Homo sapiens: one gene and its partners. The protein of the gene in region 5 interacts with the protein of the main gene of each other region in a biochemical or structural test. Each region holds a gene or a part of one and is shown on either strand. Other genes may lie near its edges.

Region 1 (4,310 bases), on a different chromosome or scaffold from region 5:
CTTCTGGGCCAGGACCCCCCTTGGTGGGCCACCATCCCTTTCCCCACCGTGTCCCTTCCACCGCAGGCCTGACCGCCTCCATAGCTCTAGCCCCCAGGCAGGCTCTGTCCCTAGGAAGCCTTGCCTCTGCCTTCACTCCTGCTGAGAACCAGTGCCAGGGTTCCAGGCTCTCCTGCCTTAGTCCTGGATGGGGTCAGCACTGACAGCCAGGCAGACAGCCGGATGGGTCCCAGTGGCCACTGGCCAGGCTGAGAAATGTTACTTGTGCTTCAGTAGTGTGATGGGCTCTAGGAAGGGAAGCTGTCCAAAGAGAACACCATCCCTGCCCTCTAGCAAGCTTCTTCTCTACCCAGGGTGGGCCCCCAGTTCAATGTGGCATGGCAGAACAGGCCAGGGAGACTGGAGGACCTGGGAAAGTGTTGTGGAAGGGGTGGATTTTAGCTGAGGCTTCACCTCATGGATGTGGAGGTCAGGAGCCTTCAGGGTGCAAGTGGGGGCCCTGCACAAAGGCTTTTAGACAAGAGCAGTCAGGGCAGCACTGAGTATACCTGTATAGGGCCGAGGGTGGAGGATGGTGGGAATCACAGAGGGGACAGGGAGAGCAGGCTGGCACCCCAGCTTCCAGGGGCCTCCCAACACCGTGACCCCTAGGCTTCTTCAGCCCTCCCCGACCTCCCCCACACTCAGTGTGGCCTCCTCTTAGTTCCTCCAAGGCATCAAGCTCCTCTGCACCCAAGACCTTGGTCCAGGCTCTGACCTTGACCCAAACTGCTCTGCCCCCACTCCCCCCAGGTGGTCCTTCCCATCTTTCAAGGCCCAACTACAAGACCACCCCCTCGGAGGTCTTTTCTGACCACCCCCATCCTCACCTCTGCTCTTTTTCCAGGACCTGCTTATTCCTTGCTCTTCTTTGGATCTCCCCGCAAGGTGGGGAGGAGGCAGGGCCATATGGTCTTGTTTGCCACTGTGTCCCCAGCACCTAGCATGGTGCTACATACATATTGGGTGCTTAATAAGAGTTGAATGGGCCAGACATGGTGGCTCACACTGGTAGTCTCAGCGTTTTGGGAGGCTGAGGCAGGAGGATCACTTGAGCCCAGGAGTTCCGGGCTACAGCGAGCTGTGATTGCACCACTGCACTCCAGCCTGGGCGACAGAGTGAGACTCTGTCTCAGAAGGAAAAAAAAAAAAAACTTGAATGGAAGGGTAAATGGACAGATAGAGCAGCTGGCCAGGACGGGGCATCAGAACACTATGCTAGCTGGGCTCAGGGACTCATGCCTGTAATCACAACATATTGGGAGGCCGAGGTGGGAGAATCATTTGAGCCCAGGAGTTTGAGACCAGCCTGGGCAACATAGCAAGACCCCATCTCTATTTTTGTAATGAAAACATTATGCCTCCAGGTTATTTGTTCTTAAACTTGAGCATGCATAAGAAACCCTTGGGGAGCATGAGAAGCATTCAGATTCAGGGGCCCCACTCCCTGAGAATTTGGTTCAGGTGGTCTAGGGTGGGGACCTAGGGTTCTGCTTTTTTTTTTTGAATGTCCTTTGTTTTTTTGAGACAGGGTCTCACTCTGTCGCCCAGGCTGGAGTACAGTGGCGCAATCTCGGCTCTCACTCTGTTGCCCAGGCTGGAGTACAGTGGCGTAATCTCGGCTCACTGCAACCTCTGCCTCCTGGGTTCAAGCGATTCTCCCGCCTCAACCTCCCAAGTAGCTGGGATTACAGGGTCATACCACCACGCCCGGCAAATTTTTGTATTTTTAGTAGAGACAGGGTTTCACCATGTTGGCCAGGCTGGTCTTGAACTCCTGGCCTCAAGTGATCCACCTGCCTCAGCCTCCCAAAGTCCTGGGATTACAGGCATGAGCCACCGCGCCCGGCCAGGTTCTGCACTTTTAACAAAACGCTCTCATCTTTTCTCAAAGTGACTCTGCTGCTGGAGGTCCAGGGGCCACAGGTTGTGAGTCCCTGCTAAGCAATGGGCTAGGAAGATTCTGATGTGATCAGAACCTGGCTGGATACACAAAACAGGTGGGGCACAGGGAGGATGGGCCAATAAGAACTGTTCCAACTCTCCAGGGTCTCTGGTGTTAGGTAAGGGGGCTCTATTCCTAAGCCCACCCTTTTTCTTGTCCTCCTTAGTCCCAAAGATGCCCTCCGAGCAGTAAAGAAGAGAATCGTGGGGAATAAGAACTTCCACGAGGTGATGCTGGCTCTCACAGTGAGTGCCCCATCTGTCTGTCCTGTGGCAGGACTACGGTCCACTGAAAGTCACCTCCCCTCAGACCCAGCAGGACTCCCAGCCTCCTCTGAGCTCCTCATTTGAGAGCTGGAAAGGTCTGTAGGCAACGCACTGTCCTGTCTACACTGCAGGCGGATGCAGAATGGCAAGAGGCCATTTGGAAAGGTTCTCCCCAATCCCCCAGCATGGGAACAGACGCTTACATCACTCCAGAACCACTGGCAGGGAGAGCCTGGGCCAAAGGACCTGTGGGTGACATTGAAGCTCAGTAAACCCAGGCCTCCGCGGGGGCAGGGAGGCCGGCTGACTGAGTTGGGTGCTGCTCGGCACTTTGGTGCTCTGGCAAATGAATGTAAAATAAATACCAGTGGCTGAGAACAGTCTTGCCCACACCACTGAACCAGCCCAGATCTCAGGGCGGCCAGACACACGTGGGCCTCCTAGCCGTCAGCATGGGTTTGGCTGGGGAAGATATAAATGCTGTCCCACCCTCCTCCACAAGCAGCATTTATATCCAGGTGAATTGGCTTAAGCAAAAAGCAAAGGCAATTCCTGCAGTGGGAAGTGGAGAGTGGGGAGGGAAGTTCAGTGCCTTTTCCCTGGGCCACAGGCTCACCAGTCGATTGACATCTCAGATGCTCCTTGATTTCCTCTTGGAGAGCCCCTTCTCTCTAGACCATGTTTAGCTCAGAGACAGCATTGGGATTCTGCGTGCACTGACGCCAGTCAGGGAAGGAAGTCCAGCCCACACACCATACCTCTGCCCACCCTAGGCCGTGCCCTCCAGTAAACAAGTCCCCCAGTCCTGGCATTGTCCCAGTCCTCCACATTCAAGGGTCTCACTCCAGGAAGTCCCATCTCCTCTCCCGGGCCTCCTCTCTGGGACACAGGAGGAGCCACGAGGGTGGGGGTTCTGAGCACCTCCTCTCCTCTGACCAAGGTGCTCGACGGCACCTCTCGGCCCTCCAGGTCTTAGAAACCTGTGTCAAGAACTGCGGGCACCGCTTCCACGTGCTGGTGGCCAGCCAGGACTTCGTGGAGAGTGTGCTGGTGAGGACCATCCTGCCCAAGAACAACCCACCCACCATCGTGCATGACAAAGTGCTCAACCTCATCCAGGTGAGTGCCAGGACAGGGCAGGGCACGGCCAGGAAGAGCTGTCAGTGCAGGAGCTTCCTGCCCAGTGGAGAGTCGAGGCCATCGTGTTTGTCCCAGGCTCCGCTTCTCATTTCGGGGCGTCTCGGTTGTCGGCTGGTGGGATGTTCTGTGGGGAGGGAGGCTTGCCAACTGCGTGCTTTGCTGTGGAGTGGGCAGGGCAGATGTAGTTAAAAAAAAAAAAAAAGCAGGGAAAGAATGTCTGTTCTCTGTCTGAGTGCCAGGTGGGCAGGCTCACAGGTGAGCTGTGGTTACCGGCTGTGTCCCCTTGTCCCCTCTCAGTCCTGGGCTGACGCGTTCCGCAGCTCGCCCGATCTGACAGGTGTGGTCACCATCTATGAGGACCTGCGGAGGAAAGGCCTGGAGTTCCCCATGACTGACCTGGACATGCTGTCACCCATCCACACACCCCAGAGGGTGAGAGAACTGCCGTACCGGGAACCAAGGGAAGGGAGGCAGGACTCATCCCCAGAGACATCACCAGGCTGGCCCCTGACTTCCTGGGCTCTTGATGTTCCCAGGAGCCCTCACTGATCCTGTTTTCCTCCCACTAGACCGTGTTCAACTCAGAGACACAATCAGGACAGGATTCTGTGGGCACTGACTCCAGCCAGCAAGAGGACTCTGGCCAGCATGCTGCCCCTCTGCCCGCCCCGCCCATACTCTCCGGTGACACGCCCATAGCACCAACCCCGGAACAGGTAAACGAGCCTGGGGTCAGAACCGTCAGGTCCAGGCAGGTGGGCCACACACGTCAGGGAGGGCCCCCTGTCAGAATTTACCATCCACGGAGCCTCCACTTCTTCCTCACAGCAGCCCACAGGGTATGTGTGGTTCTTCCTGTTTGAGCGATGAGACTCAGAGAGGTCCATTCACTTGCCCAGAGCACACAGTCATCAGAGACA
Region 2 (4,310 bases), on a different chromosome or scaffold from region 5:
GCAGAAGACACTTCAGGGTAGTAACGGCCAGCACGGCTCGGCTGCGGGGGGTGTGGGCTTACAAAGATGGCGAGGCAGACAGAGGGTGGACAGGTCCCCGAAAGGGCTGAGCTGCAGCTGATCTGGGGCCACCACCAGGGCTGATGTCCCAAGCCCAGGTCTGTCTGGACAGAATACACGAAGCAGGTCGCCGTTACAGCCCGGAACACCTGCTCTTCAGGGGACATGCTGGCTAGTGCAGACTCTAAGAGCTGTTGGAGGTCCTCAGCCGTCACCTGCCCAGCCTCCCATCCCAGCGAGAGATGAGCTGTGTACCCCACTGTGCCCCTGCCTGAGCCCCTCTCTGGCATCAACATGAGGCCATTAGCCCATTAATCCATCTAAATAATTTTAAAATGTTTTAAAACTGTGCACTGTTTTCAGCATATTAAAAAATCCTGCAAATAACAAATATCCACATATCTACCATGCGGATTCAACCATCTTGACATTCTGCACTTCAGGTTTCTTTTTAAGGAAATGCGAGGCAGATGGCGCCTTTTTGTTCTCTTCAGTCCCTCTTCCCTCCCTCTCTGGCCAGACATTCTAAAATCATTTAAAAATGATTTTTTTTGAGGTAGGGTCTCACTCTGTTGCCCAGGCTGGAACGCAGTAGCGTGATCGTGGCTCACTGCAGCCTTGAGCTCCCAGACCCAAGCAATCCTCCCACCTCAGCCTCTCAAGTAGCTGAGACCGCAGGCATGCGCCACCATGCCTGGCTTCTTTTTTAATTTTTGTAGAGATGGAATCTCCGTATGTTGCTCAGGCTGGTCTCGAACTTCTGGGCTCAGGTGATCTGTCTACCTCAGCCTCTGAAAGTGCTGGGATTACAGTCCAGCCTAAAAATGATATTTTAAAAATCATTTCCTACAAATGGAAGTGTGTATAAACAGTACATAGCATCTTTGCATGATACTTCGTGCAGACAGCAGCTTTACATCAACAGTGCCTTCAGTGTTAGCTGGAACTTCACAGAAACTATCGTTCTGTGCAAGGCTGTACGGCTTCTGAGGTTTCTCATACTGATACATGCAGCTTGATACATGCATGGTCCTTTAAACTGTGCACTGGATTCAATGATATGAATAACCACAGTGGACTTACGCTCCTGTGGGAGGATATCAGGTTGTGCCTAATTTTTCTCCACTGCTCACAGAGCTGCAGCCACCGCCTTTGTTAATCTCCTGGGCACAGATGGGAGCGATTCCTTACAGACCCATGAATTCCTGTGACTTGATTCTTTTCATTTGGAAGGAGAGGCTGGACCACTGGAGACAGATGCCTCTTGCAGGGATCTGTATGCTAAAAATACTTGAAAATCAGAGCAAATCAACACCTGTCATCTGAAAAATGGAAAATGGGCCGGGGCCAGTGGCTCATGCCTGTAATCCCAGCACTTTGGGAGGCCAAGGCGGGCAGATCACCTGAGGTCAGGAGTTTGAGACTAGCCTGACCAACATGGTGGAAACCCGTCTCTATTGAAAATACAAAAATTAGCCAGTCATGGTGACGGGTGCCTGTAGTCCCAGCTACTTGAGAAGCTGAGGCAGGACAATCACTTGAACCTGGGAGGCAGAGGTTGCAGTAAGCTGAGATTGCATCATTGCACTCCAGCCTGGGTGACAGAGTGAGACTCCATCTCAAAAATTAAAAGATAAAAATAAAACATGGAAAATGATCGTTGGAGAGTCGTGTGTGCAGGAGCAGCGCCAGAAGCCGTCCCAGGAGCCGGGTCTCCGGAAGTACTCACCAAGGTTCTCAGGTTTGCTTTTGCAGGAGCTCCGTGCAGCAGGGTGGGGTCCACAGTCCCCGCAGTGTCTCCAAAGCCCAGTGTGGTGCCAGCTGCCTCCTTTCTCTGCGGGCTGCTGGGTGGGACGGAGCTGGGCAGAAGGAAGAGCCTGAAGTCAAAGCAGCACCAGGTGAATTGACCGTGATTTCAAAGCCATGTGACCTGTTCCAAAACTCAAGGTTCGGTCACAACCACCGCAAGCGGCGGGGAAAAGACGTCAGACTCGGATCCGGGAAATAACTCGACGGACCTTTGACCCCTGTGGTTTTCCCAGTAACTATTGAAGCTTCCTTAGCACTTGGAAGCAGACTTCTAGAATGGACCTGGGCTTTGAACCCTAGACTACCAAGGAGAGTTGACAGGCGCAGTAGTTATCCAAAGCACCCACAGGCCTGTCTGCGGCTCCCCACAGGGCCAGGCCACTCATACCCTTCTGCTGAGTCTCCTTGCCCGGAAGGAAGAACAGCTGGAGAGGACAGTGACGGGCGCAGAGGCCGGGGTGGGCAGGTGAGGAGGAGAGGAGAACCAATCGAGGGCAGCTCTGCCTCATTCCTTCTGATCTCAGTCCTGTTTCTCACTGGAACAGGTGATTGAGGCTTGCGAGTCAGGGTGTCACTGATTGTGGCCCCCCGCAAAAGAATGCTGAAGTCTTGACCCCCAGTACCTGTAAGTAGGACCTCATTTGGGAATAAGTCTCTGCCAACGTAATCAAGTTGAGGTCATTAGGGTGGGCCCTAGTCCAGGGATGGGTGCCCTTATAACAAGAGGAGAAGGGCTGGGTGTGGTGGCTCATGCCTGTAATCCCACACTTTGAAAGGCCAAGGCGGGCAGATTGCTTGAGCTCAGGAGTTTGAGACCAGCCTGGGCAACACAGTGAGACCTTGTCTCTGCTAAAATCTGCTAAAAAAAAATTTTTTTTTTTTGAGACAGAGTCTTGCTCGTCTCCCAGGCTGCAGTGCAATGGCACAATCTTGGCTCACTGCAACCTTTGTCTCCCGGGTTCAAGCAATTCTCCTGCCTCAGCCTTCTGAGTATCTGGGATCACAGGTGCATGCCACCATGCCCAGCTAATTCTTTATTTTTAGTAGAGACAAGGTTTCACCATGTTGGCCAGGCTGGTCTCGATCTCCTGACCTCAAGTGATCCGCCTGCCTCGGCCTCCCAAAGTGCTGGGATTACAGGCATGAACCACTGCACCTGGCCTAAAAAAATTTTTTTTTTAATTAGCCAGGTGTTGTGGTGCACACCTGTAGTCGCAGCTACTTAGGAGGCTGAGGTGGGAGGATCGCTTGAGCCTGGGAGGTGTAGGTTGCAGAGCTGAGGTAGTGCCACTCCACTCCAGCCTGGACGACAGAGCAAGACCCTGTCTTAAAAAAAAAAGAAAGAAGAAGAAGAAGAGGAGGAGAAGGGCCCTAGGCCTAGACACCCCATGATCACCCCATGTTGGCAGAGGCCGAGACTGGAGTGACACGCCAAGGGTCGGTGGCAACACTAGAAACTCAAGAGAAGGCATGAAGCAGACCCTCCCTGGAGCCTTCATGGGGGTGCGGCCCTGCTCACCCCTGGAGTGTGGACTTCTGGCCTCCAGAACCATGAGCAAATACATTTCTGTTGTTTTAAGCCACCCAGTTTGTGGTAATTTATGACGGCAGCCAGAGGGAGCGTGCACAGGGGCAAAGGCGATGTGGAAATTGTCCGTCCATCTCCAGGGATGCGCTGCCAATGGGCACACTCCCACAGAAGGCTCCTGAGCTCCTGGGCCTCCACCCAGTAGAAGCCTGCGTCGCTAGAGTCTGACTCCAAGTCAGAATGATCCTCTGCCCCACTTCAGGACCAGCTATATCGTCTGTGGAGCTCAGGGCAAAATGAAAGGATGGTGCGTTTGTTTTAAAAACGTATTCAGAATTTCAAGGCAGCAATAGCGAGCAATAAAGTCAGCCCAGGGCCCCCACTCCAGCCCTGCCCTGCATCACCGAGGGGTCTTCAGGCCCCCTGTCTATCAGGATGTCAGGATGGTAGCTAAAGGTAGGGGATGTTTCCTTTACAGATGATGGAATGTCCTAAAGTTAACTGTGGCGGCGATTGCACACATCTGTGAATACACTAGAAGCATCTTAAACGGGTGAATTGTGTGCCGTATGGGTTATAGCTCTTCCTTTTTTTTTTTTTTTTTTTTTGAGACAAGGTCTTGCTCTGTTGCTCAGGCTGGAGTGCAATGGTGCAATCTCAGCTCACGGCAACATCCGTCTTCTGGGCTTAAGTGATCCTCTACCTTAGCCTCCGGAGTATCTGGGAATACAGATATGTGCCCCCATGCCAGGCTCATTTTTTTTGTTGTTGTTGTTTTTTGTAAAGAAGGGGGTCTCACTATGTTGCCTGGGCTGGTCTCAAACTCCTAGGCTCAAGTGATCCTCCCCCCTCAGCCTCCGAAAGTGCTAGGATTATAGGTGTGAGCCACTGTGTTTGGCCGTGAGTTATATTT
Region 3 (4,310 bases), on a different chromosome or scaffold from region 5:
AGAGGACTGCACCAGGTTAAGGAATGAATGGAAGTAAGTAAAGAGCAAAGAGAATAGATATTTTCAAAATACTTAGACGTTGAGGGAAAGAGAAAGAAAAGTATGTCCAAAACTCCCACTTGGTATTGTGGGCATCTGAAAAACTGGAATACATATTCAGCAATTACTCTATAAATGATGTTTCACTTGTTAAACTAGAAATTCAATTATCTTGGTATACATTTTCAGAGCTTGAAGCTTGTCATATTTTCAGTTCTACAGAAATTTCCTACATGGATATGCAGTAATATATTTCATTAATAGAAAACGAATAATGATTATAAGTATACACTCCACTGAAATAAGAGTTTATTCAATTTCTGGCTTGAAATAGGTTGAAATGTCTTAAAGTTTTTATATTATATAGATTGTTACCCACATATTTTGAACATACATACAGCATAGGATAGTCTAGCTATATACCCATTTCCTCAAAATTAGAACCAAAAATAACTACTAAAGTAGGAAATGTATTGTTACTGGGGAGTAGCAAGAAATACTCCAAATACTTCAAATGTGAAAAAGAGAAAAACGGAACTCTTTCGGGGGGAATGGAGTGTCCATTACTTTTTACCTTCTCCAGTTCTAGAATCTGTTGCTTCTGCTCTTCATCCAGACTTTGGGTTTTGCTTCGCAAAAAAGCTCTTTCCTCTTCAAGTTGAGATAATCTCTCATTGACTCTCGATTTTTCTGATTCTAAATCTTTAATTGTAACTTCCTGGGTCATTTGAGTTGCTTGAAGCATTCCAATATGACCTATCCCCCAAAAAGAAAATCCCTTCAATTTAAAAATCAGTTGTACTATGAGATAAACAGTTTACATTTAATAACACAACTGTACTTTATACTTAAGTAAAATAAATGGTCTACATGTACAAATTTTCCTTTTGTTTCTTCACTACATAAAATGGAAATATTTACATGAAAATACTTCTTAGCGCACTAGAATAATTTAAATTAAAACGTCATTTTCACATGATTAATGTTGCTTCCTGCACCTCGTACCGTTTTACTGGTTTTTTTTGTTTTTGTTTTTGTTTTTTTAAGATTGCAAGCTAAACAGGTTGAAGTAGGCGCAACTCCTCAGTAGGCTTCATAAGAAAGTCTCCTGGGAATAAAAGAAGGACGGAGAGGATGCACTGACTGACACTGTGGCGCCAAAATGAGTGATTCGTTCTTTTCTAATTTATTTTCAAATTCTAACATAAAAAGGAAGAAGTTTGTATGTAGGAAACAAAGATGGCAGATAGCAGTTTGGTTGAAATTGAATTTGTTTCAGGCAAGAGGCCAGATAAAGACCTAAAGTGGAGCTTGTAGTTCCAGCTACTTGGGAGGTTGAGATGGGAGGATTGTTTGAGCCCAGGAGTTCAAGGTTGCAGTGAGCTATGACTGCACCTGTAACAGCCACTGCACTATGTCCTGCAACATAGCGAGACCTCATCTCCAAATAAAAACAACCAACCAACCAACAACTAAGGTGATGTAAGACACAGATAAAGACAGCAAGGTTATGAAAGAATCTCTTAAATGACAGCAAAAAGCAGGGAAGGTGGAGAAAAATGAGGAGAGACAGAGAGATGAAAAGTGAGTGAAGAAAAAGGTCTCATAGAAAGGATAGTTTAAGGCAGAGGTTCTCAAAGTACCCAGGACCAGCATCACCAGCATCACCTGGGAACTCTGGTTAGAAATGTGACCCACCCCAGACCTAAAAGTGAATCAGAAACTCTGAGGGTGGGGCCCAGCATCTGTAGTTTCACAAACCCTTCAGGTCACTCCAATGTGCACTAAAGGCTATTAAAAACAACTATTTTAGAGGAAGGAAAATCTGAGATTCACTGATAAGCCAATCAAAATCAAATGAGATCCTCAAAGAACCAGCTCAAACAGCCTTCCTGGGCACACTAAACACTTAGACAAAATATAACTTCAGAACTGACACAAGTCACCCACTTCCTCCAGTAATGGTTGTGAAAAAGCATACCAGCCACTTGAGAAATAGGCAAGTCAGCTTTAGTATGTAAAAATGAACCTTAGTAACAAGCCCTAAGAAATGAACTGCTGTAATTTACAAACTTCAACTAATTTGAGCACTTTAAAATGTGTATTTTTTCAGTGAGACCTCATCTTTAAAAAAGTTAGCCCGTGGCATACCTAGAGTCCCAGCTACTGGGAAGGCTAAGGCAAGAGGATTACTTAAGCCCAGGAGTTTTAGGCTGCAGTGAGCTATGATCAGGCCACTGCACTCAAGCCTGAGCAACAGAACAAGATCCCATCTCTAAAAACTAAATAAATGCTGGCATGGTGGCTCACACCTGAAATCCCAGCACTTTGGGAGGCCAAGGTGGGAGAACTGCTAGAGCCCAGGAGTTTGAGGTCACCCTAGGCAACATGGCAAGACCCCGTCTTTACAAAAAATTAAAAAATTAGCCAGCCAAGGTGGTGCATGCCTGTGGTCCCAGCTACTCAGGAAGCTGAAGTGGGAGGATCACTTGAGCCCAGGAAGTCCAGGCTACAGTGAGTTGTGTTCATGCCACTGCACTCCAGTCTAGGTGACAGAACAAGACCTTGTCTCAAAAAATAAAATAAAATAAAATGTATATTTTTAAAGGACAACACCTCTTGAAAAGTGTGCTTCATTTTTCGTTCTTTCTTTTTTTTTTTTTTTTTTTTTTTTTGATACAGCCTTGCTCTGTTGCTCAGGCTGAAGTGCACTGGCGCAATCTCGGCTCACTGCAACCTCTGCCACCAGGTTCAAGTAATTCTCATGCCTCAGCCTCCTTAGTAGCTGGAATTACAAGTGTGTACCACCATGCCCAGCTAATTTTTGTTATTTTTAGTAGAGATGTGGTTTCACCTCGTTGGTCAGGCTGGTCTCAAACCTCTGGCCACAAGTGATCTGCCCACTTTGGCCTCCCAAAGTGCTGAGATTATAGGTGTAAGCCACCATGCCCAGCCCGTTTTTCTTTTAGTGACTACTTTATTGGTATTTTACCTGCTATTGGTATTTTTCCTCACAAAGGAAAACTCTCAAGTTTTCTATAAAAATATATTCCTAAAAATAAAAAATATTTGTGTATCTTATAAGTAATTAGTAACATATTGAGTCCTTTAACTTATTTACAGTCTAAATAGTTTTAAAATGTTAGAAGAAAAAATAAATGCTACCTTAAATTAACATTTAAGTGTTGGGGCCGAGCGTGGTGGCTCATGCCTGTAATCCCAGCACTTTGGGAGGCTGAGGCAGGGAGACTGCCTGAGCTCAGGAGTTCGAGACCAGCCTGGGCAACACGGTGAAACTCCATCTCTACTAAAAATACAAAAAAATTAGCCAAGCATGGTGGCGGGCACCTGTAGTCCCAGCTACTCAGGAAGCTGAGGCAGGAGAATTGCTTGAACCCAGGAGGCAGAGGTTGCAATGAGCCGAGATTGAGCCACTGCACTCCCGTCTGGGCGACAGAGCAAGACTCTGTCTCCAAAAAAATAAATAAATAAAGTGTTGATTTTAGCTAAGCATTACATCAAAAACTGTGGTCACACATACTAGCTTTGAGGACAAGATCTGAAGCTTGCTGTTGTAAACGTTCTCTGGCAGCTGCTAGCTCACTTTCCACTTCTTTGTGCTTGCTTAATAGGGCCATTTCTCCCTCCTTGGCATCATCAAGCTGTTTTTGAAGAACCTAAGAAAGATTAAATAGCCATTGTTAAAATGCAGGAATAATACTAAGCTAAATAATTCATTTAAATTATAAGGGTCAGCTTTCTCTTATTCAGAAGTCATACTAAACTATATACCAATTTTTAAATCTGTAAGTATTAGTGATTTATAACTTGATGTTTTCATAAACATGACCCAATCAGGAAAGGCTATTCCACACTTTCTAATCCATTCTAATGTTGCACAGATATTAAAAACATGGCTATGAAATTTTCTAAGCCAACAAAACAAAACTTGTGGACTTCCGGCATTTTTTTCCCCCAGACTTGTGCAATACCCCTATTAAATTCAGGTTTAGAAAGCAAGCAATTTCTTGATCAAATTCTAAATATCAGCTAGCAGGCAAACCATTATTAGTGAAAGGAAAAGAAAAAAATGTATTTAAACTTTAAGCCCAATATTAAAATCCTTTTGTAAATAATTAGCAATATTGTCCGCCCCCCCCCCCAGGAACAGCGTATTACCTCGCTAAGCTCACTCACCCAGGCTGGTTTCTAACACCTGGCCTGAAGCGATCCTCCTGCCTGGGCCCCCCAAAGTGCTGGGATTACAGGTG
Region 4 (3,898 bases), on a different chromosome or scaffold from region 5:
GCAGAAGATGCTAAGGCCCTGAGCTGCTGGGTGACCTCCGAGTCAATCCGAGTGATGGGAGGGGCTGTCAGCCTGCAGTGGATGAAGGAGGATGGCAGGGAAGACTCAAGGACCCTTGGTGTTTAAGGGGAGGAGGAGGAGGATGTCAACTTGCAGAAGGAGCTGGAAGGGGACAAGCTGGAAGTCCTAGGACAGAAATAAATGATGAGGTGCAGGTACGGTGGCTCACACCTGTAATCCTAGCACTTTGGGAGGTCCAGGCGGGCAGGTCACCTGGGGTCAGATGTTCGAAACCAGCCTGGCCACATGGCAAAAATCCATCTCTACTAAAAATACAAAAACAAATTAGCCAGGCAAGATAGTGGGTGCCTATAATCCCAGCTACTCGGGAGGCTGAGGCAGGAGAATCGCTTGAACCTGAGAGGTGAAGGTTGCAATGAGCCAAGATTGTGCCACTGCACTCCAGCCTGGGCAACAGAGCGAGACTCTGTCTCAAAATGAATGAATGAATGAATGAATGAATGAATGATGAGCAAGTTTCTGATGTAGGGGTGGTTTGGACAGGACCCGTTCTCCCTGGGGACCAGTAGGAAGGAGAAGGGCGTGGAGATAGTAGCAGCGTGGGGTGACAGTGGAGGCGATTCCCCGGCAGGCTCTATCTGGGCATTCCAGGACAGTGGGAAGTGGGCCGCGGCTTTGTGTTTGAGGAAAGCCTGAGGGGAATAGAAGGGGCTGCAGTGCCTGGTGGGAGATGTGGTAGGGAGTCAGGTGGAGTGGGTGTGGGGGCCAGCTGCCCAGGCAGAGAGGAGAGGGCACTTGTATTTACTTGTTCCCGGTTTCCCTCCATTGTGACTATCCTGAGGCAAGTGAGTATTTCTCCATCGTCTGACACAGGGCCATACCTGCCACACCATCAACTCAAGAAAGCCTTGTAGATGCTGCCCACTGGGACCAAACAAGTGGCTGGGGAAGGCCGGGCAGCTTCCCCTCTCCCATGGTAAACGGGGGCTGGAAAAGGGACAGCTGTCTTGGCCAACTCCTGGAGGAGGCCTTGGTATTTTCTTTTTCTCCCCAAGAGGGTGCACAGGAAGCGAGGAGGAGAAATGGCTTGGAGCCCTGGGGCTTCAGCCAGAAACCGCTGCCTCAGGAGGGTTTCCTCATCCTGGTGTGGCAGATCCCAGCCCACCCAACCCAAGCAGGGGGCTGGAGAGAGTTGTGTGTGTGCACAGCCGGGTTGAGACCACCTCAGTTTTTCTTTTTCTTTTTTTTTTTTTTTTGAGATGAAGTTTCACTCTTGTCGCCCAGGCTGGTGTGCAATGGCGCGATCTCAGCTCACTGCCACCTCCGCCTCCCAGATTCAAGTGATTCTCCTGCCTCAGCCTCCCAAGTAGCTGGGATTACAGGCGCTTGCCACCACGCCAGGCTAATTTTTGTATTTTTAGCAGAGACAGGGTTTCACCATGTTGGCCAGGCTGGTCTCGAACTCCTGACCTCAGCTGATCCACCCACCTTGGCCTCCCAAAGTGCTGGGATTACAGGCATGGGACACCGTGCCCAGCCAGTTTTTCTTAAATCATCCTCTCAGTGTGCTACGTGTGTCCTGGACTGTCTTCTCAACTGGACTGTAAACTCTTCAAGGTCAAAGCTGATTTTGTTTTCCTGTTCTCAGCATCTGTCATAGGCAGGTGTGCTCATCTTTTGTCAAATGAATAAATAACCAAAAAAGACATGCAATGAACTAGTTCCCACGCCCGTGTCCCTGCCGCAACTATGAGGGAAGACACGTGGGGCCTGTGCTACCCAGTTGCCTGAGCCCAGCGCCTCTGGACACCTGGGAGGACATGTGGGGTGCATAGTGTGGGGGGCCCTGGCCTTGGGCAGTCCCTGGGTTGCTATGGCTCCAGGCCTTACCTCTTACTGTCCTTCTCGCAGGCCTTCCTCCACCTTGGGTGCCTCCTGACGCCTGCCCCGGAAGTCTTCATCTGAAAAGGAGAGGGAAGCTGCCTCATCCTCTACCCTGCAGGGCCTCGCTCAGGCACGGCCCCTAGACTGGGCAAGAGAGCTGACCCGACTCTCTCTGCCCCCTTCATTTGGGACCCATGCAGATCCCCCCAGGTAGACGATGCATGGGTCCAGGGAGAGAGGCAGCAGGACACTCAGGTGCTGGCCAGGGTCCACCACTGAGCTCTGAGACCTTGGACAAGTTCTCCCCTCGTCTTTGGGCCTCAAATTTCCTCATCTATAAAATGGGATGGAAAAGCTGGACTATCTAGATGACCTCTGAGGCCCTTCCAGTCCTTGTTTCTGGATGCCTCCTGACCCTCGAATGTGGCATGAGGATCAGGGTTCAGCTGCGGGCCCAGGAGGGTCTGAGGCAGAGTCTTCTGGCCCACGTGGCCTTTGGAAGGGACTGGGTGAAAGTTGAGAAGCCTCTGGGCCCACAGACTGAAGCTGCCCAGTGCTTGGTTCTCAGGCCGAGGGTCCCCCATGGGGGCAGGCCTGTCTGCCACCTCACACCCAAAAGAATATTCCCCAGAAACAGTACCTGGCACTTCATGCTACAGGTACACATCTAGGTGGAAGTAGGGCTAGGGCCCCTTTTCAGGGGTTGCAGAAAGGGGGAAGCAATGTCGACCAAGTCAGGGGGATCCATATCTTTGGGTCACCTGCCCACCAACCCTCAGTGTGTTCCTCCAGGGGACAGGGCGGGTGCTCCCATGAAACACCCAGGAACTCCGCTGGGAGATCACCGATCATAGAGAAGTTGGAGCTTACGACTCCCCTCCAGCCTCACCACACGCGTGGCCCTCCACATCATCCAGGAGGTTGGCTGTTGACGCGGCAGCCCCCAGCCTGCCAGGCCATTCAGGAAAACCGTCCCAGGGATGAGGGGACACTGCCCTAGTCCTCCCAGTCCCACTGACTCTCTGCCCCACCCCTCAAAGCTCTGGAGGTACCTGACACACCCACCTGACCCCCCACACCCTTAGTACTGTCCCCCAGGCTCATTTTCCTGAGGTCAGTGGTATGGCCAGGCCCTGACACTCTCGCCCAGCTTACATCTCTGGGGATGGAGAAACAGCTTCCTCCCTGTTTCCCTCTGGCTGCTGAGCCTCTGCTATCCTAGGCCCTGTTTGAGAAGCATGAATAGGAGTTCTGATAAAAAGGTGGAAAGCCGTATTTCTACTCGAGGAAGGGAGGGCCAACATGCTTGGAGTGAGGAGGACTCGTGCACCAGTTCAACTAGAGAAATGAAGGGAAGGTTTGATATTGATGGAAGAACCACTTTTTCTCCCAAGAAGTACATAACCTCAGACCAAAAAAAAAGTTAATAGGACAACTTCTGGGCCTACAGAAGGGAGACAGGAGCTGCTGCCCTGCTCCCTAGGCCTGGTCCCTGGTTGGCAACGAGAGACGGGCAGTGGACTGGTGGCCAAGCTCATGGAGGAGAGGGGAGGAGGAAGGGAAGGCCACAGAGCCGGGTTCCACTCCCAGGGGAGGGCACAGCTGCAGGGAGTCCAACAGGGGTCTTGCTCCATGGCCCTTGGCTTCCACCACCCCCACCAGTGCCAGGCTGGAAAGGATACGACTGATGCTTCAACAAGTGTTTCCTCTTTGACTTCCTCATTTTGGTCTTCTCTGAGAAGGCTCGGGCAAGTTCAAACAGTTTCCTCCGGGTGGCTGGGGGCAGAGAGACCTGTGAGTCATTCTCTCAGCAGCCAGCACACCAGATGGCCTCCTCCCAGGTGTGGGAAAGGCCAGGGGAGGACCAAGGCCCCCCGGAGAGGGAGCAGGGGGCAGGCAAGGGTGGGAGCTGAGGAGGGAGAGATGACAGGAATCGCAGACCCCTGAGGACGCCACCCCAGGAGCAAGAGGCTACATCCTGGGTCAGCCTGCA
Region 5 (4,310 bases):
GTAATTGGAACTTATATGGTAATGAATGTTTTTTTCTTTCAGGTATAAGAAGCTGCTGTCCCTCTTAACCTTTGCTTTGCAGTCCATTGATAATTCCCACTCAATGGTTGGCAAACTTTCCAGAAGGATCTACTTGAGTTCTGCAAGAATGGTTACTACAGTACCCCATGTGTTTTCAAAACTGTTAGAAATGCTGAGTGTTTCCAGTTCCACTCACTTCACCAGGATGCGTCGCCGTTTGATGGCTATTGCAGATGAGGTGGAAATTGCCGAAGCCATCCAGTTGGGCGTAGAAGACACTTTGGATGGTCAACAGGACAGCTTCTTGCAGGCATCTGTTCCCAACAACTATCTGGAAACCACAGAGAACAGTTCCCCTGAGTGCACAGTCCATTTAGAGAAAACTGGAAAAGGATTATGTGCTACAAAATTGAGTGCCAGTTCAGAGGACATTTCTGAGAGACTGGCCAGCATTTCAGTAGGACCTTCTAGTTCAACAACAACAACAACAACAACAACAGAGCAACCAAAGCCAATGGTTCAAACAAAAGGCAGACCCCACAGTCAGTGTTTGAACTCCTCTCCTTTATCTCATCATTCCCAATTAATGTTTCCAGCCTTGTCAACCCCTTCTTCTTCTACCCCATCTGTACCAGCTGGCACTGCAACAGATGTCTCTAAGCATAGACTTCAGGGATTCATTCCCTGCAGAATACCTTCTGCATCTCCTCAAACACAGCGCAAGTTTTCTCTACAATTCCACAGAAACTGTCCTGAAAACAAAGACTCAGATAAACTTTCCCCAGTCTTTACTCAGTCAAGACCCTTGCCCTCCAGTAACATACACAGGCCAAAGCCATCTAGACCTACCCCAGGTAATACAAGTAAACAGGGAGATCCCTCAAAAAATAGCATGACACTTGATCTGAACAGTAGTTCCAAATGTGATGACAGCTTTGGCTGTAGCAGCAATAGTAGTAATGCTGTTATACCCAGTGACGAGACAGTGTTCACCCCAGTAGAGGAGAAATGCAGATTAGATGTCAATACAGAGCTCAACTCCAGTATTGAGGACCTTCTTGAAGCATCTATGCCTTCAAGTGATACAACAGTAACTTTTAAGTCAGAAGTTGCTGTCCTGTCTCCTGAAAAGGCTGAAAATGATGATACCTACAAAGATGATGTGAATCATAATCAAAAGTGCAAAGAGAAGATGGAAGCTGAAGAAGAAGAAGCTTTAGCAATTGCCATGGCAATGTCAGCGTCTCAGGATGCCCTCCCCATAGTTCCTCAGCTGCAGGTTGAAAATGGAGAAGATATCATCATTATTCAACAGGATGTAAGTATAGATTCTTTAAGAGGTTAGAAAACTTCCTTGGGGCTGGGCACAGTGACTCATACCTGGAATTCCAGCACTTGGGGAGGCTGAGGCCGAAGGATTGCTTGAGCACAGGAGTTCGAAACTAGCCTGGTCAACAAAGCAAGACCCTGTCTCTACAAAAAATTTTAAAAATTAGCCAGGCATGATAGTGTACACCTGGGGTCCCAGCTACTCAGGAAGCTGAGGTGGGGAGGGTCACTTGAACCTGGGAGTTTGAGGCTACAGTGAGCTGTGATTACACCATTGTACTCTAGCCTGAATGACAGAGCAAGACACTGTCTCACAGAGAGCTTCCTTGGACCATACTAAAATAAACCTAATTCAGAAATGCTGCTTCTAACATTCAGAAGCAGAGTTTTCCACATAAAATTATTACTTATACAACAATAATGTTTGTACTGTTTAAACAGCAATAATTCTTGCCTATGGGCATTTCCGGTTAATTGTATAATGGTGATTACTTTTGCATTTGCTGTCGGTCACAAATACCTTCCATTCAGAGGTCACATTTATAGGTGGTTTGGGAAGCCAGACTGAATAAGAATAATATCTTGCAGACTAATTTCACAAAATCTTACTCCTTTAACAGTAAAAAGATTGCTTTCGTTTAATATGTAGACACCAGAGACTCTACCAGGACATACCAAAGCAAAACAACCGTATAGAGAAGACACTGAATGGCTGAAAGGTCAACAGATAGGCCTTGGAGCATTTTCTTCTTGTTATCAGGCTCAAGATGTGGGAACTGGAACTTTAATGGCTGTTAAACAGGTAAATATCTAGTGAGCATATAAATGAAATGACTCAAATCACAAAATGAAGCATGTTCAGTAAAAAGAATAAAGGATATGTCCACGTGTGTGTACTTTAGTTCTTTAAACTTTGAGAAACTTAGTTTCAAAGTAGATGTTTCTAAAGCACCAGAAACATCATGAATTCTGTTATTGTTAAAAGTTGAGGCCACGCGTGGTGGCTCACACCTGTAATCCCAGCACTTTGGGAGGCCAAGGTGGTTGGATCATTTGAGGCCAGGAGTTCAAGACCAGCCTGGCCAGCATGGTGAAACCCTACCTCTACTAAAAATACAAAAATCGGCCGGGCAGGGTGGTAGGCACCTGTAGTCCCAGCTACTCAGGAGGCTGAGACAGAAGAATTGCTTGAACTCAGGAGGTAGAGGTTGCAGTGAGCCGAGATCGCACCACTGTACTCCAGCCTGAGCAACAGAGCAAGACTGTCTCAAAAAAAAATAAATAAAAGTTGAAGTATGATTATTGTAAGACTACAATATCAAGATGGGCCTTACAAAGGTTTTTTTGGTTTTGCTTTTTGTAGGTAGTAGAGGTGGTTTTCAGGTACTTCTTTCAACAGTGTACTTGTGCGGTGCCATCTTGGGGTTTCAGTGGTTTACTTTTTATTATAACGAGCATACTTAATCAGGATAGGAAAATTATTAAACTTTCATTTTTAAATCATGTTGATTCTTCTCCCATATTTGGGCTTTTCTCATCTTTACTCTGAGACTATTGGAATATTGACTATATCCCAATATTTTTGTCATTTTTCTGATGTTTACTGCTGCTTAAGCTAGATTCTTAGTGTTTAAAAGAGTTTGACTTGGGTTTGTTTAAAGTACATTGCATCCATAAGCATAAATGCCATCTGTTGCTAATAAAGTGCTAGTTTGCATTTGTTCATTTTAGATCAGATTGCTAGTGAAAATATGCAAAACTTTGTGAACGTGTTTATTTGAAACAGGTGACTTATGTCAGAAACACATCTTCTGAGCAAGAAGAAGTAGTAGAAGCACTAAGAGAAGAGATAAGAATGATGAGCCATCTGAATCATCCAAACATCATTAGGATGTTGGGAGCCACGTGTGAGAAGAGCAATTACAATCTCTTCATTGAATGGATGGCAGGTATGTTAATGTTTTAAATTACAAAATAGTAGTACGTGGATTTAACTTTCTGCAATTTAGGAAAAACCAGTTTAATTAAAATTTATTTCTATCAAATAGTTTGGGTTTCTAAAAACAAATCACCCCAATATATTAGTATGAACCACAAATACTTCGTTTTGTATTTCATTTACTATAAATGAAATATTGACTACCTCTACCTTTTAAATTTTTCCAGTGTGTTTTTAAATGATTGTGTAGCATTGTTGTTTTTAATACTTGATATGTATAAGATATGTATATTTCCAGGTAGCCATGATAAATTGGACAGATGAGGAAGTGTTTTAACATAACAATATACAAACAAAATTAACATATAACTTGAAAACTTACTACAAGTAAACTAGCACTGAAGCATAAAGTTGAACCTTGTCATCTGCTGAAATAAATGAAGACTGAGTTTTATTTTGTATTATACAATGTATACAATAAAATTAATGACCTGATGTGATGAACAGATTGTTTGGTTTAACTTCTTAGATTTGTGTGTGTATTTAAGAGTGCATTTCTCTTTACCAGTCAGTTCTTAAGTATGTTATCTGTTGGTTGGTCTTAATAAAGATTTACACTACAGTAGATAGGTTGACTACTATAAACACTTTTAAAAGCGGCTAAATTTGAGACATGTTCCAGGTCAGAGCTAGTAAATGGTAGAATATGACGCCTAACTCTGGGTTTTCTGTTCCTCCTCCCATTCTTTCCACCTTTTACTACATAATATGTTAACATTGTTTACTTTAGTCATTAATAAAGTTGTTTTGTGTATTTTGAGAAGACAGAGAATTGAATTGTACATTTCAGAAATAGTTTAATCCGAAATTGTTAACTTTTACAGCTTTCTGAAATCTTGACTCTCCAATAAACTGGTTTCCCTGTGGGTTCTGTGAAAATGTCTCCTAATTAGTAGGTTTTTGAGATGATACAGGAATATGTTAGTTTTGAAATGTTTTTCTTCTGTTTCAGATGTGAATG
Region 6 (4,310 bases), on a different chromosome or scaffold from region 5:
GCTGCACAGGTTGCCGGCACTCCCCTCTGGCCCCGGCCCGGCCATCACAGAAGAGAACGGCACGCTGCTGTCTGCACAGAGAAAAGTGCTCCCGGAGCCACAGACACCAGGGCCTGACGGCCCCACACTCGGCGGGGCGGACGCCAGCACAGCCCACACCCCTACAACAGCTGAGGCCCGGCTGGCTCTTCCAGCCTCTTCAACAGGGGGCTGCATTACCTGGTCTCTTCCGGAAGCTCCTCGATAAAACCAGACTCGCATCTTGGACAGATATAATCCTGCAGGAGAGAACAGGAGGCCGGGTCACGGTGACGCCGGCATCACCTGCAAACCCCCCCAAGTGTGAGGACAGAGGGGCTCCGGACCCAGCGGTCTCTGGCTGGCCAGGCACACGCAGGCCAGGGTGGCTCCCAACCCGTGGGTCCTGGAGGGCGGCCGAGGGGACCTGGCCTCTGCCAGCCACCCGCTGACCCTTTGGTGGCTCCCGGCGATCTGAGCCCCTCCGACCTGGCCCCACCGTGACGGGCGTCACCAGCGTCATCAGCGCCTTGGCTGAGCCCCTCCGACCTGCCCCACCGTGACGGGCGTCACCAGTGCCTGGGCACCTCCTCACACAGGTGGCACCACTCGGAGGGGTGCCCCAATACCCCACAGTGGCATTTCCAGGACGCTCTGGCAGCCCCGCACACAGCCCGTTCCCCTGGCTCGGGGGAGGCCACGTCCACGCTGGCCACACCCCTGCAAGACCCCATCCCCAGGTCCCCCTAGAGCCAAGGACAACACAAGGCCAACATGGTGATGTCCCAGAGGAGACGTGAGGACCCTGCCCAGGGACAGCCGTGGGTGAGTCCCAAAACCACGTTCACAGTTCCCCAGCACCAGCCTCAAGCCACAGCTGTGCCGAGCAGGACGGATGCCATCCCCTGTGGATCTCACACTGCAACGGGATCCCCAGGGCTGAAGGGCCTGCTGGAGACACTGGCTCACAGGGCGGACTCCTCATGGATGGCTGGGCCCCTGGTGATGGCGGAGCGTGCCGAGCATTCGTGGGGCCTGGGCTGAAACGTGCATGGTGCCTCCCGGCCTCACCAGGGGCTGGGCAGATGCCGACACACACTTCCCGCACAGCCTGCAGAACTGGAAACTGGAAGCTAAATCAACTGCTCTCTATGAACGACCCAGTCTCAAGTGCTCCATCGCAGCAACGTGAAAATGGCCTCACACGGCACGTGTCATCACGCCAGGGGCTCACATGGGGGTCCCAAGACCACCCCCAGGTAACACAGACAAAAACAGGAGACAAGGCTCCCACCGTGCATGGGGGAGTGCTGTGAGGGGAGCCAAGGTCGACCCCAGGCTCTGGGGATGCAGGTTGCACCGGGGCTGTTCAGTCTTCGCAGGGGCAGGGGCTGGGACCTCTCCAGCAAGCAAGATCCCGGCCTCACCCACTGACTCTGGGGAGAAGCGGGGGTCTGGCGTGCAGTGCCCAAGGGGAGGGCCGACAGCTGGGCCCCCGCCCACACCACGCCGTGCCTGCCTCACCTGCTCCTGCCACTGAAGCACAGGCTGGGTGGGGAGGGACTAAGGCCAGGGTGAGCAAACGATGCCAGATGCACATGAACCCACCGTGAGGGGAGAGTGAAGAGGCACCATCTACAATATAGAAAAAGTGCGGCCCGGCTCCTGGTGAGGCCGGGAGGCACCACATGCGTTTCAGCCCACGCCCCACGAATTCTCGGCACGCTCCGCCATCACCGGGGGCGCGGTGGCTCAGGCCTGTAATCCTGGCACTTCGGGAGGCCGAGGCGGGCGGATCATCTGAGATCAGGAGTTGGAGACCAGCCTGGCCAACATGGTGAAACTCTGTCTCTACTAAAAATACAAAAATTAGCCGGGTGTGGTGGCGGGCGCCTGTAATCCCAGCTACTTGGGAGGCTGAGGCAGGAGAATTGCTTGAGCCCGGGAGGCGGAGGTTGCAGTGAGCTGAGATTGTGCCATTGCACTGCAGCCTGGGCGAGGGAGCAAGACTCCGTCTCAAAAAAAAAAAAAAAAAAAAAAAAAAAAAAAAAAAAAGTGCTGGCCGGGCGCGGTGTCTCATACCTGTAATCCTGGCACTTTGGGAGGCCGAGGCAGGCGAATCACCTGAGGCCAGGAGTTCGAGACCAGCCTGGACAACATGGAGAAACCCCGTCTCTACTAAAAATACAAATGTTAGCCAGGCGTGGTGGCACGTACCTGTAATCCCAGCTACTCAGGAGGCTGAGACAGGAGAATCGCTTGAACCTAGGAGGCGGAGGCTGCAACGAGCCGAGATCATGACATTGTAACTCCAGCCTGGGCGACAGAGTGAGACTCCGTATCGGGAAAAAAAAAAGTGCTTACAACTCAAAAGAAAGAAAGAAAGAAAGAAAAAAAAGCCCAGGCCAGGTGCAGCAGCTCACACCTGTGATCCCAGTACTTTGGGAAGCCAAGGTGGGCAGACCATTTGAGGTCAGGAGCTTGAGACCAGCCTAGCCAACATGGCCAAACCCCATTTCTACAAAAAACAAATTAGCTGGGTATGCTGGGGTGGGTCTGTAGCTCCAGCTACTAAGGAGGGGGAGGAGACAGGCAGGAGCGGGAGGCAGGAGGCAGAATGGCTTGAGTCCAGGAGATCGAGACCGCAGTGAGCTGTGGTCCCACCACTGCGCTAGCCTGGGTGACAGAACCAGACCCTGCCAAAAAAAAAAAGAAAAAGAGAAACAGACAACGCAACTAAAAACGGGCAAAGTCGGGAGGCTGAGGCAGGAGAACGGCTTGAACCTGGGAGGCAGAGCTTGCAGTGAGCCGAGATCGCGCCACTGCACTCTAGCCCGGGCGACAGAGTGACACTCCATCTCAAAAAAAAAGAAAAGTGGGGGGGGAAAGGACGTGTACAGGACATGCCTCCAAAAACACGCTGGGTAAACGCAGCCGGCCAGCCCCAGCGAGATGCCACTTCCCAGGGCCAGCCAGGACGAGATGCAAGACCCCGTCAGGCCTGCTGGGAGCCCAGAAGTCCCCCAGATGGAACTACCCCATGACCCACGAGCTAGAACTTTCACTCCAGGCGCAGACCCCAGAGAAACGAAGACACCTGCCCACCAAATGTTCACATGGCCAGAACTGGCAGGTGAGAGTTCACGGCAGCACAGTTCATCATCGTCGTCGGCAGATGCAAACAGCTCCAGTGTCCACCCGCACCTCAGAGCACGACTCAACCATGGAAAGGGGCAAGGCCCAGACCAGGCCACGGCGGGGGGGAGGGGGGATTGCATCTTGAGGACATCACGTCCAGTGAGAGATGCCAGACACAGAAGACCACGCAGCGTGTGATCCCACGTCTATGAAATGTCCAGGACAGGCCGAGCCACAGAGACAGAGAGGGGATGTGTGAGCACCAGGGCCTGGGGGAGGGGACGGGGAGTGACGGCTGGCAGGGCTGAGGTGGGTTCTTTTTGCAGCTGTGAGAATGCTGTGGAATTAGACTGTGGTGGTGGTTGCACAACTTTATGAATATACTACAAACGTTTCACCAGGTGAATTATATGGTGTGTGAAAATACTGAGATAAAGCTATTAAAATAAATGGGCCAGGCGCCTGTGGTCCCAGCTGCTAGGGAGGCTGAGGTGCCAGGATCGCTTGAACCTGGGAGGTGGAGGCTGCAGTGAGCCAAGATTGCAGCAACAGAGTGAGGCAGCATCTCAAAAACAAAAACAAAAAAAAGAAAGAAACAAAGAAAAAAAGGGCTGGGCACAGTGGCTCACACCTGTAATCCTAGCACTTTGGGAGGCCAAAGTGGGCAGATCACTTGAGGTTAGGAGTTCGAGACCAGCCAACATAGGGAAATACCGTCTCTACTAAAAATACAAAAATTAGCTGGGCACGGTGGTGGGTGCCTGTAATCCCAGCTACTCAGGAGCTGAGGCACGAGAATCGCTTAAACCCGGCAGGCAGAGGTTGCAGTGAGCCGAGATCATACCACTGCACTCCAGCCTGGGCCACAGAGTGAGACCGTGTCAGAAAAAGAAAAAGAAAAAGGGAAAGGGGAAGGGGAAGCAGCCAACGACCACCACTGTGGCCCTGAGCTTAGTGTGGGAGCAGTGTGGCTCTGCCACAGTGGCCGTGACAACTCTCCCCAGGCGTCGGTTCTTGGGGTGTGTTTGGGGTGTCGGGATTGGGACGCCCCACGTAAACACGCTGAGACTTCACAGTCAAATCTGAACCCCTGGTTTCTGCCGGTGTCGGGTCTATCGGGGCTCCTCTGGGCTCAGGGGTTGCCGCCGTCCGCC
Region 7 (4,310 bases), on a different chromosome or scaffold from region 5:
ACGGTGGCGGGCGCCTGTAGTCCCAGCTACTCTGGAGGCTGAGGCAGGAGAATGGTGTGAACCTGGGAGGTGGAGCTTGCAGTGAGCCGAGATCACACCACTGCACTCCAGCCTGGGCGACAGAGCGAGACTCCATCTCAAAAAAAAAAAGGAGATATTTGCTAAGTGAAAAAGTGAATGGAGTGTTGGGAAGATTCTGAGCCCAGATTGTAAGTGGGGTCTGGGATGAAAGCTGAAAGAAAGCTTGATAGAGTGTGGGAGCATGTGGTGTGTGGAACTTTGGAGAGCAGCTGGGACTTCTGTGGTGATGGATGCTGGTTCCATGACCAGGAGGGAGACTTAGTAGAATGTGAGTAGGAATTAGGAGGCTCTAGGAGGGATTCAGCTGTAAGTCAGTGGTAGCATATGGTGGGCATGGCCTTCAAGGGCTATGGGTGGGGCTTCAAGGATTGAGAATGGGATTTGTGAAACCAGCTTGGGCTAATTTAATAGTAAACAGAATCTTAGTGGTTGATAGGGCTTAAAATATTTGTGAGAGCCTGGGCACAGTGGCTCATACCTTGATTCCAGCACTCTGGGAGGCTGAGGCAGAAGGATCTCTTGAGGCTAGGAGTTTAAGACCAGCCTAGGCAACATAGCAGGAACTTGTGTGTACTAAAAATAAAATAATTAGGCCAGGCACGGTGTTTCACACCTGTAATCCTAGCACTTTGGGAGGCCAAGGTGGGCAGATCGCCTGAGGTCAGGAGTTCAAGACCAGCCTGGCCAACATGGCAAAACCCCATTTCTATTAAAAATACAATAATTAGCCAGGTTTGATGGCAAATGCCTGTAATTCCAGCTACTTGGGAGGCTGAGGCAGGAGAATCACTTGAACCTGGGAGGCAGAGGTTGCAGTGAGCCGAGATCACACCACTGTACTCCAGCCTGGGTGACAGAGAAAGACTCAGTCTCAAGAAAATAAACAAATAAATAAATAATAAAATAAAATTAACTGGGCATGGTGTGCACTTGTAGTCCCAGCTACTTGGGAGGATCGCTTGAGCCCAGGAGTTTGAGGTTGCAGTGAGCTATGATTGCACCACTGCACACCAGCCTGGGCAACAGAGCAAGACTGTCTAGGGAAAAAGATTTTTTTGAGACGGAGTCTCACTCTGTCACCCAGGCTGGAGTGCAATGGCTCGATCGCGGCTCACTGCAACCTCTGCCTCCTGGGTTCAAGCGATTCTCCTGCCTCAGCCCCACGAGTAGCTGGGATTACAAGCGCGTGCGCCACCACGCCCAGCTAATTTTTGTATTTTTAGTAGAGACGGGGTTTCACCATATTGGTCAGGCTGGTCTTGAACTCCTGACCTCATGATCCACCTGCCTTGGCCTCCCAAAGTGCTGGGATACAGGCGTGAGCCACCGTGCCCAGCCACGGAAAAAGATTTTTGGGGGAGGCTGAGGTGGGAGGATTGCTTGAGCTCAGGAGTTCAAGACCAGTCTGGGCAATGTAGCGAGACCTTGTCTCTACAAAAAAATCAAAAAATTAGCCCGGCATGATGGCACACACCTCTGATCCCAGCTACTTGGGAGAGTGAGGTGGGAGAATCACTTGAGCCCAGGAGGTCAAGGTTGCAGTGAACTGTGATCATTCCAGTGCACTCCAGCCTGGGTGACAGAGCAAGTCCCTGTCTCAAAAAAAAAAAGAAAAAAATGTGAGAGGCATGGATAGAGCTGAACCTTCGTCTTTTAGGCATGTGGTCATTTGGCACAGGGACTCTGCCACCTGAGGGGTTGAAGGCCAGTTCTCCCTCTATTCGAGGCATGGCAAGGGACTTCAGAGACCACCTCATCCATCATATATCCCTGTTCTACTCACCAGCCCTGCAGGAACGCTATGGGAAAGAAGCCGGGAAGTTCTCAGCTGTCAGTGAGGGCCAGGGGGATCCCCCAGGGGGCCTGGCCCCCACCGTCCTGGCCCCCATGCCGTTGGCAGAGGTGGAGCTGAAATGGGAAATGGAGAAAGAGGAGAAGAGATTGCTCTGGGAACAGCTGCAAGGCTTAGAGGTGAATCTGAGTCTGTTGGAGCTGGAATGCCAGAAGGCAGGGCAGATGTTCTACCTCTGTCTATAGTCCCACGGAGATGGCTGTGACATCACCATCTTGTGGGCTGATGGGGTGAGGGAGGCAGGAGGGCAGGGGAAGGCTTCTCCTTGTCCTTGCTAACAACAACCCTCCCATCCCTCATCCTTCCCTGCAGAGCTCAAAGCAGGCCGAAACATCCAGGCTGCAGGAGGAACTTGCTAAGGTGCGGCTGCTTGGCTCTTTCCCATTCTGCTCCCAATCTGCTGGATTCTTTCCCATTCCATTCCCAATCCTAGGGCAGAAGGGGCATTGTACCCCATCAAAGCCTAGGTTTCATCATCTGTGAAATGGAGAGACTCACACCTATGTCTCAGAGTTACTTTCAGTATGGAATGAGTTAATGTGGTCCCACTATATCTTGTGCATGATAAGTTTCATCCCATCCATCTCTCAGCTTTGCCCATTCACTCATTCATTCATTCATGCAAGCATTTACAGACTCCTGGCTCTTATCTTAGGACCTGGAGACCCAGGGGTGCGGCACCCAGTCATGATATCCTGCTTTCCAGGCCTCCCAGCCTAGCCAATCTATAACATGGCCATTGGCCACTATGTTGGGAGCATAAATACCGGGCTTTGGAACCTGAAGGATCTGGGTGGAGATAATATTGTTGTTGCTGACCCGCTGAGCAACCAAATTACTTAACCTTTCCAAGACTCTGTTTCCCCATTTGTAAAACTGGTACTACTCACTTGTCAGGGCTATTTTGAGGATTCCACAAGACAACATAAGTAAATCCTGGCTTCCAAAAATGACTTAATAAGAAGTGTCTATATTTATTAATTTTAGGTTTGTCTTTATATTATTCTCAATGTTATCACTTGTCTGTACCTCTCTCCCCAGCTCTCCGAGAAACTGAAAAAGAAACAAGAAAGGTAAATTTCTTTTTCCCAAGGGTACTGGGGGCCGAGGGGGGAATTAACTTACGGAACTGACCCATCTACATCTGTCCTTCTGTGCCCAGTTTTTGCCGTCTGCAGACAGAAAAGGAGACTCTGTTTAATGACAGCAGGTAACTGCCAGATTTGCGGGTATTGGTGGACAATTGGGACAGTGCCCAGTGAAGATTACAGGGGCAGAGCTAGGAGACTGGGCCTCAAGCCATGTCCAACACACCCCCTCCCCATCACTCCTAGGAACAAGATTGAGGAATTACAACAACGGAAGGAAGCTGATCACAAAGCCCAGTTGGCTCGAACCCAGAAGCTGCAGCAGGAACTTGAGGCTGCCAATCAGGTGATGGGGACTGGGTTCTGAGATCCCTGGGGTAGGGGCCAGGACTGGGAGCCTGGAGAGGTCTGAGGTCCATGGAGGCTGGCTGGGGAGTCTGAGATTTCCTGTGTTGGAAATGGGTTCTGGGGCCCCCCAGGAGCTAGGAAAATGGGAATTGGAGAGCCCTAGGAATTGTTATAGGAGTCTTCATGAGTGTAAGATCTCAGGGGGCTAAGGACTTAGGGGGCTGTGTGCTATAAGTTTGTGTAAATCTGAAACTCCTGGAGGTTTGAGACCACAGTCTGGATGAATCTGTGGTCACTAGGGCCTAGGACCAGGAACTGGGGTAAGTCTGAACTCCCTGGGTGCTGGGTGACTTTGAAATCTTTAGGGGCTGGGATGTCAGTAAATTTGGGACTCCCAAGGGCTGAGGACATGGCTGGGTAGATATACAACTTTCAAGGGTGAGATAGTTGGGGCTGAAGGCTGAGTGCATTTGAGATCCTCAGGATCTGGGCGCTGGCTTGGGCCTAAGACACCTAGGAAGTGGGATCATATGGGCTAGGTAGTCCTGAGATCCTTGAGGGCTGTGAACAAAAAGCTGGTCAGTCTGAGACCTCCAGGGGCTGGAGCAGAAGTTTAGGTGGGTCTGAGGCTCCTGAGGACTGGGGGCTGGATGGTTCTGAAGCCTCTGGGTTTCCTTCTAGAAAAGGTGAGTCTGAGGTCCCTTGGAATGGAGGATATGGTGGCTTGTGGTTCTGAAGTCCCTAGAAACTGGGAACATGGGGTCTGAGACGGGAGTCTGGGTAAAGCTGAGACCCCCAGGAACTGGTGGTTAACTGGGTCTGAAGATTCCAAGAGACTGGGGAGCAGAGTGACAGGTGAAGGGGTCAGTCTGAGAGTTCACCAGGACCTGGAAACTAGGAGGTTGTGAGTTTGAGACCTCTAGGATCTGGGACTATGAGTT

What was found.
Region 1: of the proteins of MAP3K1 (region 5) and TOM1, one has a biochemical effect on the other in vitro, tested with the Homo sapiens proteins (one large-scale study listed by BioGRID).
Region 2: of the proteins of MAP3K1 (region 5) and CARD14, one has a biochemical effect on the other in vitro, tested with the Homo sapiens proteins (one large-scale study listed by BioGRID).
Region 3: of the proteins of MAP3K1 (region 5) and FAM184A, one has a biochemical effect on the other in vitro, tested with the Homo sapiens proteins (one large-scale study listed by BioGRID).
Region 4: of the proteins of MAP3K1 (region 5) and CUEDC1, one has a biochemical effect on the other in vitro, tested with the Homo sapiens proteins (one large-scale study listed by BioGRID).
Region 6: of the proteins of MAP3K1 (region 5) and RNF126, one has a biochemical effect on the other in vitro, tested with the Homo sapiens proteins (one large-scale study listed by BioGRID).
Region 7: of the proteins of MAP3K1 (region 5) and GRIPAP1, one has a biochemical effect on the other in vitro, tested with the Homo sapiens proteins (one large-scale study listed by BioGRID).

What each region holds. Positions count from the first base shown.
Region 1 is NC_000022.11:35,319,809-35,324,118, forward strand, and holds part of TOM1 (target of Myb1 membrane trafficking protein), read left to right. Parts: intron 1-1,933; exon of another isoform or gene 1,934-2,039; intron 2,040-2,150; coding exon 2,151-2,229; intron 2,230-3,190; exon of another isoform or gene 3,191-3,219; coding exon 3,220-3,369; intron 3,370-3,687; coding exon 3,688-3,822; intron 3,823-3,959; coding exon 3,960-4,106; intron 4,107-4,310.
Region 2 is NC_000017.11:80,176,135-80,180,444, reverse strand, and holds part of CARD14 (caspase recruitment domain-containing protein 14), read right to left. Parts: intron 1,938-4,310; 5' UTR 1,790-1,937; intron 1,351-1,789; exon of another isoform or gene 1,342-1,350; 5' UTR 1,144-1,341; intron 1-1,143. UniProt on the Homo sapiens protein: Acts as a scaffolding protein that can activate the inflammatory transcription factor NF-kappa-B and p38/JNK MAP kinase signaling pathways.
Region 3 is NC_000006.12:119,019,365-119,023,674, forward strand, and holds part of FAM184A (protein FAM184A), read right to left. Parts: intron 3,717-4,310; coding exon 3,581-3,716; intron 796-3,580; coding exon 614-795; intron 1-613.
Region 4 is NC_000017.11:57,864,563-57,868,460, forward strand, and holds part of CUEDC1 (CUE domain-containing protein 1), read right to left. Parts: intron 3,682-3,898; coding exon 3,588-3,681; intron 3,131-3,587; exon of another isoform or gene 3,061-3,130; intron 2,854-3,060; coding exon 2,795-2,853; exon of another isoform or gene 2,776-2,794; intron 1,983-2,775; coding exon 1,915-1,982; 3' UTR 1,912-1,914; intron 1-1,911.
Region 5 is NC_000005.10:56,881,528-56,885,837, forward strand, and holds part of MAP3K1 (mitogen-activated protein kinase kinase kinase 1), read left to right. Parts: intron 1-42; coding exon 43-1,339; intron 1,340-1,999; coding exon 2,000-2,152; intron 2,153-3,136; coding exon 3,137-3,299; intron 3,300-4,310. UniProt on the Homo sapiens protein: Component of a protein kinase signal transduction cascade. Activates the ERK and JNK kinase pathways by phosphorylation of MAP2K1 and MAP2K4. May phosphorylate the MAPK8/JNK1 kinase.
Region 6 is NC_000019.10:652,607-656,916, forward strand, and holds part of RNF126 (E3 ubiquitin-protein ligase RNF126), read right to left. Parts: intron 279-4,310; coding exon 220-278; intron 1-219. UniProt on the Homo sapiens protein: E3 ubiquitin-protein ligase that mediates ubiquitination oF target proteins. Depending on the associated E2 ligase, mediates 'Lys-27'-, 'Lys-29'-, 'Lys-48'- and/or 'Lys-63'-linked polyubiquitination of substrates.
Region 7 is NC_000023.11:48,988,668-48,992,977, reverse strand, and holds part of GRIPAP1 (GRIP1-associated protein 1), read left to right. Parts: intron 1-1,867; coding exon 1,868-2,052; intron 2,053-2,245; coding exon 2,246-2,293; intron 2,294-2,974; coding exon 2,975-3,006; intron 3,007-3,095; coding exon 3,096-3,143; intron 3,144-3,267; coding exon 3,268-3,367; intron 3,368-4,310. UniProt on the Homo sapiens protein: Regulates the endosomal recycling back to the neuronal plasma membrane, possibly by connecting early and late recycling endosomal domains and promoting segregation of recycling endosomes from early endosomal membranes.